Homo sapiens: one gene and its partners. The protein of the gene in region 1 interacts with the protein of each later gene in a biochemical or structural test. Each region holds a gene or a part of one and is shown in the gene's direction. Other genes may lie near its edges. The genes, in order: LEF1, TLE2 and CDX1.

Region 1 (3,747 bases):
ATTTCACTATTCTCAGGGTTATGTTATATTCAATAAACATTTAAGTGCTTACTTTGTTCAAAGCATTAATGGGGTTGGGAGAGGGGATGGGATAAAAGAGATGTAATTCATGGATGGTTTGTTTCAAAGTTGAGGGTGGGAGATTTCTTTCAAGGCAAATGACACTTTGATTGGGTGGAGGGTAAGGAAGGGGAACGGTTACGTTTCTGAAACAATCCCGGGGTCTGTAATACTTCCACAAGATTCTGTTTGAATATCTCCCTCTTCTCCCCTCATCCAACTCTTACTACTGGTTGGTAACTGGTGTTTTGTCATTGATGGGTTCCTTTCTTCTGTGACCTCAGGCAAGGTCAGCCTGTATATCCCATCACGGGTGGATTCAGGCAACCCTACCCATCCTCACTGTCAGTCGACACTTCCATGTCCAGGTAGGTGGAGGTGGAAACTGGGGCGCTCGAGGACAAGTTGCTCTTCTCGTGCTTGCATCCTGTGCGCCTCTGCTTGCCTTTTGGTTGGCTAGGAGGGTGCATACCTCAGCCATGTGTCTGTCTGTGCAGTGTGCCTGGCTCCCACACTAGGTGTCAGAGAGAGTCCCGGGTAGGAGCTCTGCGCTGTGCCCCGGCCGGACCAGCCACACCATCGGGCGATGGACTCAGCCTCCTTGGAAAGCGTTGCCTCCAAACAAATTCATGGCCGCCTGACTGTGGGATGGGAACTGTCCGGAAAGCGGACATTACAAGAAGAGTTTGTTTGATTCAAAATATGCCGGGGGTGGGGTAAGGGAGGAGGATAAAACTGGTTTGGTCTCAGCTCTATAATTTGCTTCCTTTGTGGAAAGTTGTATCAGTTTGATGCGGCAGTGTTTGAAAATGCCCAGATAGTCTAGAGCCTTCCTGGATGGAGGCTGTCAGAAGAGACAGAACAGTGCGGACAGGCTGGCAGGCCATACAGGGTGTGCGTCCTAGTGTGTGAATCAGGCCCTGTGTGGACATGGTCATGCCAGCGGAGCTCGGGAGGCCTGCCGCGCCGCACCGAGAAGCTGCTGTGTGTGATGCTTTTGCTTCTGGAGAGGATGGCACTGTGCCCTGTGCTTGATGTACACACACATTTGGGGTGCATCATCTGTGTGTTCGATGTGGCTTTGTCAAGGGAGCTAGCATTATTGTGCCGGAAGTCAAACTGGTGGGTTATTAACTGGTTGTGAATATGTCTTTTTTATATGGGTATAGTATTCAAAGTTTCTGTGGTGAATTACAGCTTTAAAAAAACTTTTTTTTTCAGTGAGTTGTAAATGTAGCTGATTGTGGGAGGAGGTGGAATTAATATCCTTCCCCTTAAAACATATTTTTATACTTTTTAACATTGTAAGAACTATCTGATGATAGAACTCTCACAGGCAAATAACTATCATCATGTATTTTTGCAAGTAATACATTTAGCAAAGCATCATTATTTGGTCAAATATTTGTATTTTTACCATGCTTCCTTCATATTTTAAAATTTGTTTTTGAAAAATATATATCCTAGCAGAGTTCCTTTCAAGAAAAGGAAATTAATTGTGTAGGCTGTGATGAAAGACCTGAGAATGTTGTTCTTGCTGAATTAAATGTTTACTTTAAAAAGTTTGAAAAGCAAAAATTTCTAAAACATATCCAAATTTATCTAGAGAGCTTATTGAAAATACTGTCTTTATTTTATTTTTCTTGCCTGGCAGTTTCCCTCCTTTGTGTTGGCTGGTGGTGGATATTTTAAGATTTTTTTTAATGCTGTTCAAGCGTACTTGGGAAAAAGCCTTTGGCAAGTGTAGTTTTTAACCTTGATGCAGAACTTTATCCTTCCTTTAAATTCTTCTCCTTATTTCTGTTACCAGTTTTCCATAAGATGAGATCTCTGAAACATTAGTGTATTTCTGCACAGAAAATCATTTTGGATGATGTTAATGGAAACCTTATTAAATGGGAGACTGATTCCTATCCGTTTTCTCAGTTGTTCCCTCCTAATATGGATGAGGAAGCCAATAATATGAGAAAATTCCCATTGTGATGGTTTGCTTAGGAATATAGGCAGAGATTTTAAAACATGATGTGTTTTGCTTTCATTTAAAAATCATTTAAAAAGTCAAGTCTTAAATAAAGTGTTATATTTCCAATAATTACTTTTCGTGAAATTCCTATTTCAAAATTGCTTTGCAAGAAAAATGATTCACTTTTTTTTTTCCACCCGAATATAGAAAGAAAAAAATAATTATCGGCCCACTCTAATTTATAGTTAATGCTTCTGTGCGTAAAGATGTGTTTTTACTCTTAGCCAGTAGCAGTTAGTGGATTGCTTTGAAATTCCATCTAGCTTTTGCTGCAACAGCCAGTAGTACATTGTTTTCTTCTCTTTCCTCCTTTCAGGTTTTCCCATCATATGATTCCCGGTCCTCCTGGTCCCCACACAACTGGCATCCCTCATCCAGCTATTGTAACACCTCAGGTCAAACAGGAACATCCCCACACTGACAGTGACCTAATGCACGTGTAAGTATCCACCCGGGCTCTGCTGTGATTGCCTTAGGATACTGAGGATTTCTACACTGTTGCTCCTTTGCAACAGTGATCCTTCACCCCTTTGTGTTGCTGTGAAACTCAATGCACCTCTGCCTTGAAAACTCTGTCCCTGAGGACATTAAGCAGCTTCATTCCTACTGTGCTGATTTTGATTCTGAGGTTGCAAAGGAGCACGGACCCTAAAAGATCATGGGAACCTCACCAAAATGGAAGAATCTTCAGAACATAGGCATTCGAGACTCTTCAGCTGTTTAGCCATTTACCACTGAATTTTCATTTGGTTCAGATTATTGGGGAGAACCTGTTCCTACCTGAGTGAAGTAGATTGGAGGGTTTAATGCACTTTCTTCTGGAAGTGCAGTTACCCTGGCTCCAAGCTTCAACAGCACAGAATTCAAGGGAAAGGAACAAATAAAGCCCAGGATTCCCTGTTGGGCCAGGGTTGTCTCAGACTGTGAGTGCAGGCCTAAATTAATTTACTCTGAAGAGATGAGTAATTAGTTTCTTAATCTAGGTTTTGTGGATGGGAGGGTGGGGGTGAGAGGCAGCATGTGATGGTCCATAAAGCCCTTGCGAATGTATGCAAAGGCAACATGCATTTGTTTGGGGGAAAAGGTCTAAAGATTTATTAGCTTCTCAAAGTGCTCCTTAACCCCCTGCAAAAGTTAAGAACCTCTATTCTGAAAGAGGAATGATCACCTGTGCTGTGTGTTCAGCTTCTTCTGAGGGGACCAGAGAAGTCCTCAGCCTCAGAGCCCATCTGGAGCATCTTCACAATGCCAAGTCCATTTCTACTTGGTGTTCATAGTTCTATAATGACAGGTCCACTTTCTCAAACCAAAGGGTTTTATTCTCAGTCACTGAGTAGATAGGAAGCCCTATTGGATGGGTTGTTTGCCTCTCAGTGTTTTGTCAAATGAGTCAATAACTGCTCTTCCAAGTTGGTGGTGGTCTGGGGTGAGAGGGTTGTCGCCATCCTGAGTGTAGCCATGTGAGCAGGTGCTCTGCTTTTCTCCTCCCCCATCCCTTCCTCATTCCTTCAACCCCTTCCCCTAACCACCACCACCACCACCTTTTAGGAAGCCTCAGCATGAACAGAGAAAGGAGCAGGAGCCAAAAAGACCTCACATTAAGAAGCCTCTGAATGCTTTTATGTTATACATGAAAGAAATGAGAGCGAATGTCGTTGCTGAGT
Region 2 (3,747 bases), on another chromosome or scaffold:
GAGACGGGGTTTCTCCATGTTGGCCAGGCTGGTCTTGAACTCCTGACCTCAGGTGATCCACCTGCCTCGGCCTCCCAAAGTGCTGGGATTACAGGAGTGAGCCACCTTGCCCGGCCAATAGACCCAAAGATTCTAAAATTGACTTTAGTGGTCCATGCTTAATCCTGAGATCCTGAGACTGGCCAGTGGTTTCTAAAGGGATGAGAGGGGTCCCAAACTTCTGAGCTTCATGGGCTCCTAGATTCTATCAGAATATTAGAATCAATGAGCAGAACCTTGTATTGGGACTTCCCGGTGGCTGGGAAGGAGAAGGGGGTGGGCTGGGAGTGTGGGGTGCCTGGGGTTGCCCACCCTGGCATGCTTTCCTGCATGTGTGGGGGTTCTGTTGGTTCTGATGTGGGCAGGAGGGGGCTTGTCTGCTGAAGCATGGCGTGGTCCCATGGGTCCACGCAATAGACCCCCCTTTATGGGGTGCGGGACACCCTGGGATCCCAGTTCCACCCTCCTGGTGGGAATAGGAGACACAGACTTCGCCAGACACACAGCACACCTGTAACTCAGGCAGAGGCAAAGTCCGTGGCCATTGTATGCCCGCCCCCTTCCCCACCCACACGCCTTCTCGTCTGCTCAGCCTCTTTGGGGCACCTGGGCCCAGACCCTCTCCAGATGAAATCCTTCCCTTGAGTGTGGCGTGCTGAGATCTCCACCTGGAGGCATCCCCAGCTGGTAGATCAGTCCTGGGAAGCGGAGGAGACCAAGAAAGGGGCCTTGCCTGGGACAGACGTGGGCCAAGCCGGGGCTGGAATCTGGGACTCCAGGCGGAGGCCCCTTTCCTTTGTTTCAGCTGAGCCCAGCACCTCTGAGTGTCTGCGTCTGAGTTGGGTGTCTGAGCGTCTGCCTCCTGCAAATCCCTGGCGGGTGTGCGTCTGGCGGGTGGTGTATCTGTGACTCGTAGGACCTCAGCCCTGGTCTTCCCAGCTCCAGGCCACCCTGGGCCTCGCTCAGCTGAGCACGCAGCCTGGTGGGGCTCTGAATCCCACCTCGGCCCATGCCATGCTAGCCTGAGTTCCCTCTGTGCACCTGCGGGCGTCACCTCCCCAACCCTTCGGCTTTGCCAACACCTGGTCCGCCTGGGAGTCCAGAGCTGGGTTGCAAATCTCTACCCCGCTCCAAGCTTCCTCTCATTGCTTCCTGCCAGGCGGAGATTGTGAAGCGTCTGAGCGGTATCTGCGCTCAGATTATCCCCTTCCTGACCCAGGAGGTGAGTGGGCCTGGGGGTGGGGGGAGGAGGGGAAGGGAGCCGGAAGAAGACGGGAGGGGGTAGGTCTGGGCGAGGACGCCCCAGGCACTGATTCTGCCGCGTAGCCTGCAGCACGGATAGAGACCATTTTCACTGCAGTAGTCCCGCAGCCCTGAGGCCAGGCATCCCGCTGGGGCAGGGGCTGCAGGGATGGAGGGAGGTGTTGGCTGAGGGTGAGGACTGGGGGCTGTTTTCCCCCTTGATGGGAAGCAAGGCATAGAGCTGACCCCCTCAAGCCCTGCAAGTTGGCTGCCTGGGTCTGAATCCTGGCTGTGTGGCCTCAGGCAGGACACTTGTCTCTGTTTTTTCAGTAGCGTAGGTGTGAAGTTGAGATGAGCTCATACACCCAGGGTGCTGGAGATGATGGGTACGCTTACTCAGCACCTGATGAAAGTTAACCCTACCGTCTTGCTAGAAGAAGTCACTGAGGGACAAACACTGGGTGATCCACTCCTAGGAGGTCCCAGGGTCGTCAGGTTCACTGAGACAGAAAGCAGAATGGGGGGTGCCAGGGGTTGGGGAGGGGACGGGGAGTGAGAGTTTTATGGGGACAGAAATTCAGTTTGGGAAGATGGGAAAATTCTGGAGATGGTGCTGGGGATGGCTGCACAACCGTGTGTGTGCTTTATGCTGCTGAGCTGTGCACTTACAAATGGTTAAAATGGACTGTAATTCGGCCAGGTGCGGTGGCTCCTGCCTGTAATCCCAGCATTTTGGGAGGCTGAGGCAGGTGGATCACCAGAGGTCAGGAGTTCGAGACCAGCCTGTCCAACATGGTGAAACCCTGTCTCTGCTAAAACTTAAAAAAAAAAATTAGCCGGGCATGGTGGTGTTTGCCTGTAATCCCAGCTACTCGGGAGGCTGAGGCAGGAGAATAGAATTGCTTGAACTCAGGAGGCGGGGGTTGCAGTGAGCAGAGATTGCGCCGCTGCACTCCAGCCTGGGTGAGAGAGTTAGACTCCATCTCAAAAAAAAAAAAAAAAAAAGTTAGCTCTTCTGAGAGTGCCCCAGGTTCCTTTCATCCTCAGTACCTTTGCACAGTCCCTGTTTCTTTTTTCTTTTTCTTTTCTTTTGTGTGTGTGTGTGTGTGTGATGGATTCTTGCTCTGTTACCCAGGCTGGAGTGCAGTGGCATGATCTTGGCTGACTGCAACCTCCACCTCCTGGGTGCAAGCGATTCTCATGCCTCAGCCTCCTGAGTAGCTGGGATTACAGGCGTGCACCACCACGCCCGGCTAATTTTTGTATTTTTAGTAGAGACGGGTCTCCCTATGTTGCCCGGGCTGGTCTCGAACCCCCGGACTCAAGCAATCCGCCCGTGTCAGGCTCCGAGTGTTGGGTTTACAGGTGTGAGCCACTGTACCCAGCCTGCACTGTCCCTGTTTCTGTGTGGTACGTTCTCTCTTCAGAGAGACGTGAAAGATAGTTCTACTTCAGAGTGGATACACTGGGAGGATCCTTGATGCCTTGAGGACCAAACCCAGAGGGGAGATGCTCAGTTTGTTCAGATTCCACTGAGTCTGAGATTTCTGGAAGCTTGGGGTGGGGAGAGGTCCTGTGTAGACACAGAACATAAAGAGCATCTGCAGCGGAAAGTGGGGACGAGGTGGTCTAGAGAAAGGCAAGAGCCGCAAGAAGTTTAGGTAGGCCGAGCCCAGTGGCTCACGCCTGTAATCCCAGCACTTTGGGAGGCCAAGGCGTGCGGGTCATGAGGTCAGGAGTTTGAGACCCACCTGGCCAGTATGGTGAAACCTCATTTCTACTAAAAATACAAAAATTAGCTGGGCTAGTCCCAGCTACTCGGGAGGCTGAGGCAGGAGAATTGCTTGAACCCGGGGGGTGGAGGTTGCAGTGAGCCGAGTTCGCACCATTGCACTCCAGCCTGGGCAACACAGCGAGATTCTGTCTCAAAAAAAAAAAAAAAAGATTAGGTAAAATGACTGTTGAAAGGAATGAGTAAGGCACACATTTCCAGGAATTAGCAAACTGCAGCTCGAGGGCCAGCTCCACCCCTCCACTTGTTTTTGCAAATAAAGTTTTATTGACATAGCCACGCCCACTCATGTACATATCATTTCCAGCAGCTTTCCCATTACAGTGACAGAGTTTGGTAGTTGCAACAGAGACCTCTGGCCTGCAGAGGGAAAATGTTTTCACTCTCTGGCCCTTTCTAGAAAGTCTTCCAACCCATCCTACACACACCCACACACAGGTGCACCCCCATGGGAGCTCTGTATCCGCATCCTGATACCTCCTTGGTGGAGACAGCCCAGATGTCTGTCTTCAGGAGCGTGTATACACAAGCAGCCTCAGAGTGCATACAGTGGAATATACTACTGTTCCGCTATCCTACACGGCAGTCACCAGCCCCGTGTGATCATTTACACTTAGGTTAACTATTAATAATATTTAAATCTATTATTTTTTTCCTTAAAAAAATTTTTTTTT
Region 3 (3,747 bases), on another chromosome or scaffold:
CTCTCCTACAAGCAGCCTTCATGTTGCAGCAAACACTGGGCATTACTCCTTTCCTTTCTGAGCCTCAATGCTTCTACCTGTGCAATGGAAAGGGTTCCTCTGAGCAGGAAGCGGAGGGAGCCCTGTGCTGGCTGAGTCTCTGGCTCTATCACATATCAGAGCCCCAGAAGAGCAAGAGTCTCACCAGGGCCAGCTTCCCAGGCGGGTCACCATTGCAGTCACACAGAGCCCAGTGTGTGGAAGGGCCCCGGGCTCAGGTGAATGCTCTGCTGCCACCATCCTGAAATCCTTAATCATTTTTGAACAAGGGACCTTATATTTTTTATTTTGCTCCCGGCCCTGCAAATTATGTCCTGATCCCGAAACATCTGCCCAGCCCTGAGATGATACTGACCAGCCCCCGGCTAATATGGTGACCCAAGAGAGAGACGGGTTGAACAGATAAGACCCTGATTCTGACCTTCTTCTGGGGACCACACATCCCTGCACAATGAGAGGAACCCAGGAAATGTGGGCCCATCCAATCCCACAGGGTGCTTCTGCACAGCTCCCTGGCACAAAGCCCTTGTGCGGAGGGACCCCATCTGACTTCCTGACCCAGAGCCCTGTCCTTCATGCACCCTTCCCCAAATCCCTCAGCCTTGTCCCCACTCCCAGTTCACTGACACCCCCTCAAGTGTTCCCAGCCCCCACTCCCCCTTAGGTAGCTATGAAATGTTTGCCAGTCCTTCATATGGAGTGGAGGAACACGTGATGCATTTAAAATCCCAAGGGGGCTCCAGCCATAATAAATGGATCAGGGCTTTTGGATCCCGATTCACACAAACAGACTGCTAAAAAGACATTTTTGAATCAATTGGAGTACTTTGAATACGAACTGTGTGTTAGGTAATACCCAGGAATTTGTGTTAATTTTGCTAGATGTGATAATGGCATATTATGTAAGAAAATGTCCATGTGTTTTAGAGATGCGTGCTGAAGTATGTAGGGGTAAAATGACATGATGTCTGGAATTTGTTTTAAAATACTTCAGAAAAGCGGGGAGTAGGTGAAATAAGTGTGACAAAACCTTAATAGTTGTTGAAGCGGGGTGATGGGTACACAGCAGTTCATTATACAATTCTACTTTTGTGTATGCTTGAAACCTCTCAATTAAAAAAAGAGGGTAGAGAGTCATCAAGATAATTTACTAAAAGTTTCCTGTAATGTCCCCAGAAGACCCCCCTAACTCACACACACACACACCCACACACACACTGCCTTTTGAGAACTTTCTCTAGAAGGCCAACCCAGGCAGTCCCCCAACTGTAAGGAAGACTCGTGTATGTATGTGCATATGTGCATTTCCCCAGGGAAAAACATCCACAGCTTCCATGACGAGAGGGGTCGTGACCCCTCCCCGCCAAAAGATTAAGGACCTGCGATCCTACAGACCGGAGCCCTGTTTGAAGTCTGCGTTGCCCCTCACCTCAAGCTGGTCACTGTGTGAAGTTGGCCTAGAATCCCCCGGCCCCTGGGAGCTTGTTCCTCCGCCTGTAAAATGGGGCTGCAGGGCCGTCCACGCGGCCACCGGAAGGACAAGGTGTTCAGGCCGCTAGGCCGCTCCCTGGCAAGCGATTCCCACTCGCAGCGCGGCCTCGACCCTCGCCCAAGACGCGCCCTCCGCGCCCCCACCCCCTCCAGGCCCTGGCCAGTCCACCTCCCGCTTGGGGCGGCAATTTGTCTCCTTTTGAACCCCCCGCCCCCGACGGGTTTCCCCCTTTGATTCGCGGCCCGGAGGCTTCCCCCCGCTTTGAAATGCAAACCCGCCTCGGCTGGGGCCGCGGGCGGCCCGGAGCTATAAAAGGCCTGGGTGGGGCGGGCGCGGCGGCAGGACAGCCGAGTTCAGGTGAGCGGTTGCTCGTCGTCGGGGCGGCCGGCAGCGGCGGCTCCAGGGCCCAGCATGCGCGGGGGACCCCGCGGCCACCATGTATGTGGGCTATGTGCTGGACAAGGATTCGCCCGTGTACCCCGGCCCAGCCAGGCCAGCCAGCCTCGGCCTGGGCCCGCAAGCCTACGGCCCCCCGGCCCCGCCCCCGGCGCCCCCGCAGTACCCCGACTTCTCCAGCTACTCTCACGTGGAGCCGGCCCCCGCGCCCCCGACGGCCTGGGGGGCGCCCTTCCCTGCGCCCAAGGACGACTGGGCCGCCGCCTACGGCCCGGGCCCCGCGGCCCCTGCCGCCAGCCCAGCTTCGCTGGCATTCGGGCCCCCTCCAGACTTTAGCCCGGTGCCGGCGCCCCCTGGGCCCGGCCCGGGCCTCCTGGCGCAGCCCCTCGGGGGCCCGGGCACACCGTCCTCGCCCGGAGCGCAGAGGCCGACGCCCTACGAGTGGATGCGGCGCAGCGTGGCGGCCGGAGGCGGCGGTGGCAGCGGTAAGGACCCTTCCCTCGCCCTGCGCCTCTGGACCTGCAGGTGCTCGGGCGCGGCCCAGGCCGCCCCCTGTCTGACCTCTGCTCCGGCCCTGCTCGGGTTCCCGGGAGTGTGGCCCTCCTGTCCACTCTCGCCCTGGGGGGCTGCTCTTTGGCTCCCTCTCCTCAGTCTCAGGCTATCGGAGCCTTCAGCAGCACAGCCTAACCCTCTCTCTGTACAGATAGGGAAACCGAGACCCCCTGCGAAGTGCGGAAATGCGCCTGCGGCCGCGGAGCAAGACCCGAACTAGAACGCAGGCTCCCAGACTCGTGTCCCACACTCATTTAGCAACACCGACTCCGTGCTCTTCATCTGCTTCTTCCACTCCTAACCCAGCCCTAGGCAAAGGCGGCAGGTTCGCCCCAGAAGGGACGATTAACTAACTGTGTGAACAGGGCAGGTGACTTTCCTGGCCAGGGCTGGGTCTCCCCATCACACAGTCAAGACATTGCTGGGTCATATCCTTCAGGCTGAAAAAGAGCCCTCTTTGGCCAGACTGGGGCAAGGGGTCTGTACCTTACCTTCTCAGGGTCCTCCCTGAACTCTTGACCCCGGGGGAGGGGAAGCGGGAGCAGTGGGAAGGGGGGCTACTGTTTGGCTCCTGAGCCTGTGAACCTCCTGCCCCCAGGCAGGCCTCTCTGATCCGCCCTCTTCAAAGGCAGGGTAGGGGGCAGGACAAAGGGCCCAACTTTAATGAGGGGCGGCTTGACCTCCGTTATGGGTCCCCCCTTTGTCATGCAACTGGCTCTGCCTTGGCTCGGTAGTGACTCCTGTTGGCCGGAAAGTGAACACGACGTTCCATTGTCCGGACTGTGTCCGGCCTGTCCTGACAAAGGCCACCTAGCCTTGGGGGCGGGAAGCTGGCCTGCCCACCCTTTGATGTCCAGCCCCTCCTCCCCTTACCCCAGCTGCGAATAATCCTGGGACTTCTCCCACCTCCTCGCACTCTTCACCCCCATCTCCCCACACACACCCAGCTTGCCTCGGGGCAGATGCTGGGTTGGCCTTGATCAGGAGCTACGGGTTCTGGCCATAATCATATCCCCTTTTTGGAAGTCCCGGGGATACATAACCTCCTATCTGCCTCCAGGGAGATGCAGGGAACCAGACTCTGCCACTTGCTTCTGTGGCCTTGATTAAATAACAGCTAATGTTTTGGAACACTTAACTAACGGACCAGGCATGACCTAAGTAAGATCTTGCATGCATTAACTCCTTTAACTCTTAAAACATCATCGTAGGTACTATTATCACCCCCATTTTAAGATGAAGAAACTATGGCATAGAGAGTTTAAGTA

Evidence for each region.
Region 2: the proteins of LEF1 (region 1) and TLE2 form a complex in vitro, tested with the Homo sapiens proteins (one study listed by BioGRID).
Region 3: the proteins of LEF1 (region 1) and CDX1 form a complex in vitro, tested with the Homo sapiens proteins (one study listed by BioGRID).

What each region holds. Positions count from the first base shown.
Region 1 is NC_000004.12:108,078,267-108,082,013, reverse strand, and holds part of LEF1 (lymphoid enhancer-binding factor 1), read left to right. Parts: intron 1-344; coding exon 345-428; intron 429-2,399; coding exon 2,400-2,522; intron 2,523-3,631; coding exon 3,632-3,747. UniProt on the Homo sapiens protein: Transcription factor that binds DNA in a sequence-specific manner. Participates in the Wnt signaling pathway. Activates transcription of target genes in the presence of CTNNB1 and EP300.
Region 2 is NC_000019.10:3,022,534-3,026,280, reverse strand, and holds part of TLE2 (transducin-like enhancer protein 2), read left to right. Parts: intron 1-1,198; coding exon 1,199-1,261; intron 1,262-3,747.
Region 3 is NC_000005.10:150,164,910-150,168,656, forward strand, and holds the start of CDX1 (homeobox protein CDX-1), read left to right. Parts: upstream 1-1,868; 5' UTR 1,869-1,967; coding exon 1,968-2,412; intron 2,413-3,747. UniProt on the Homo sapiens protein: Plays a role in transcriptional regulation. Involved in activated KRAS-mediated transcriptional activation of PRKD1 in colorectal cancer (CRC) cells. Binds to the PRKD1 promoter in colorectal cancer (CRC) cells.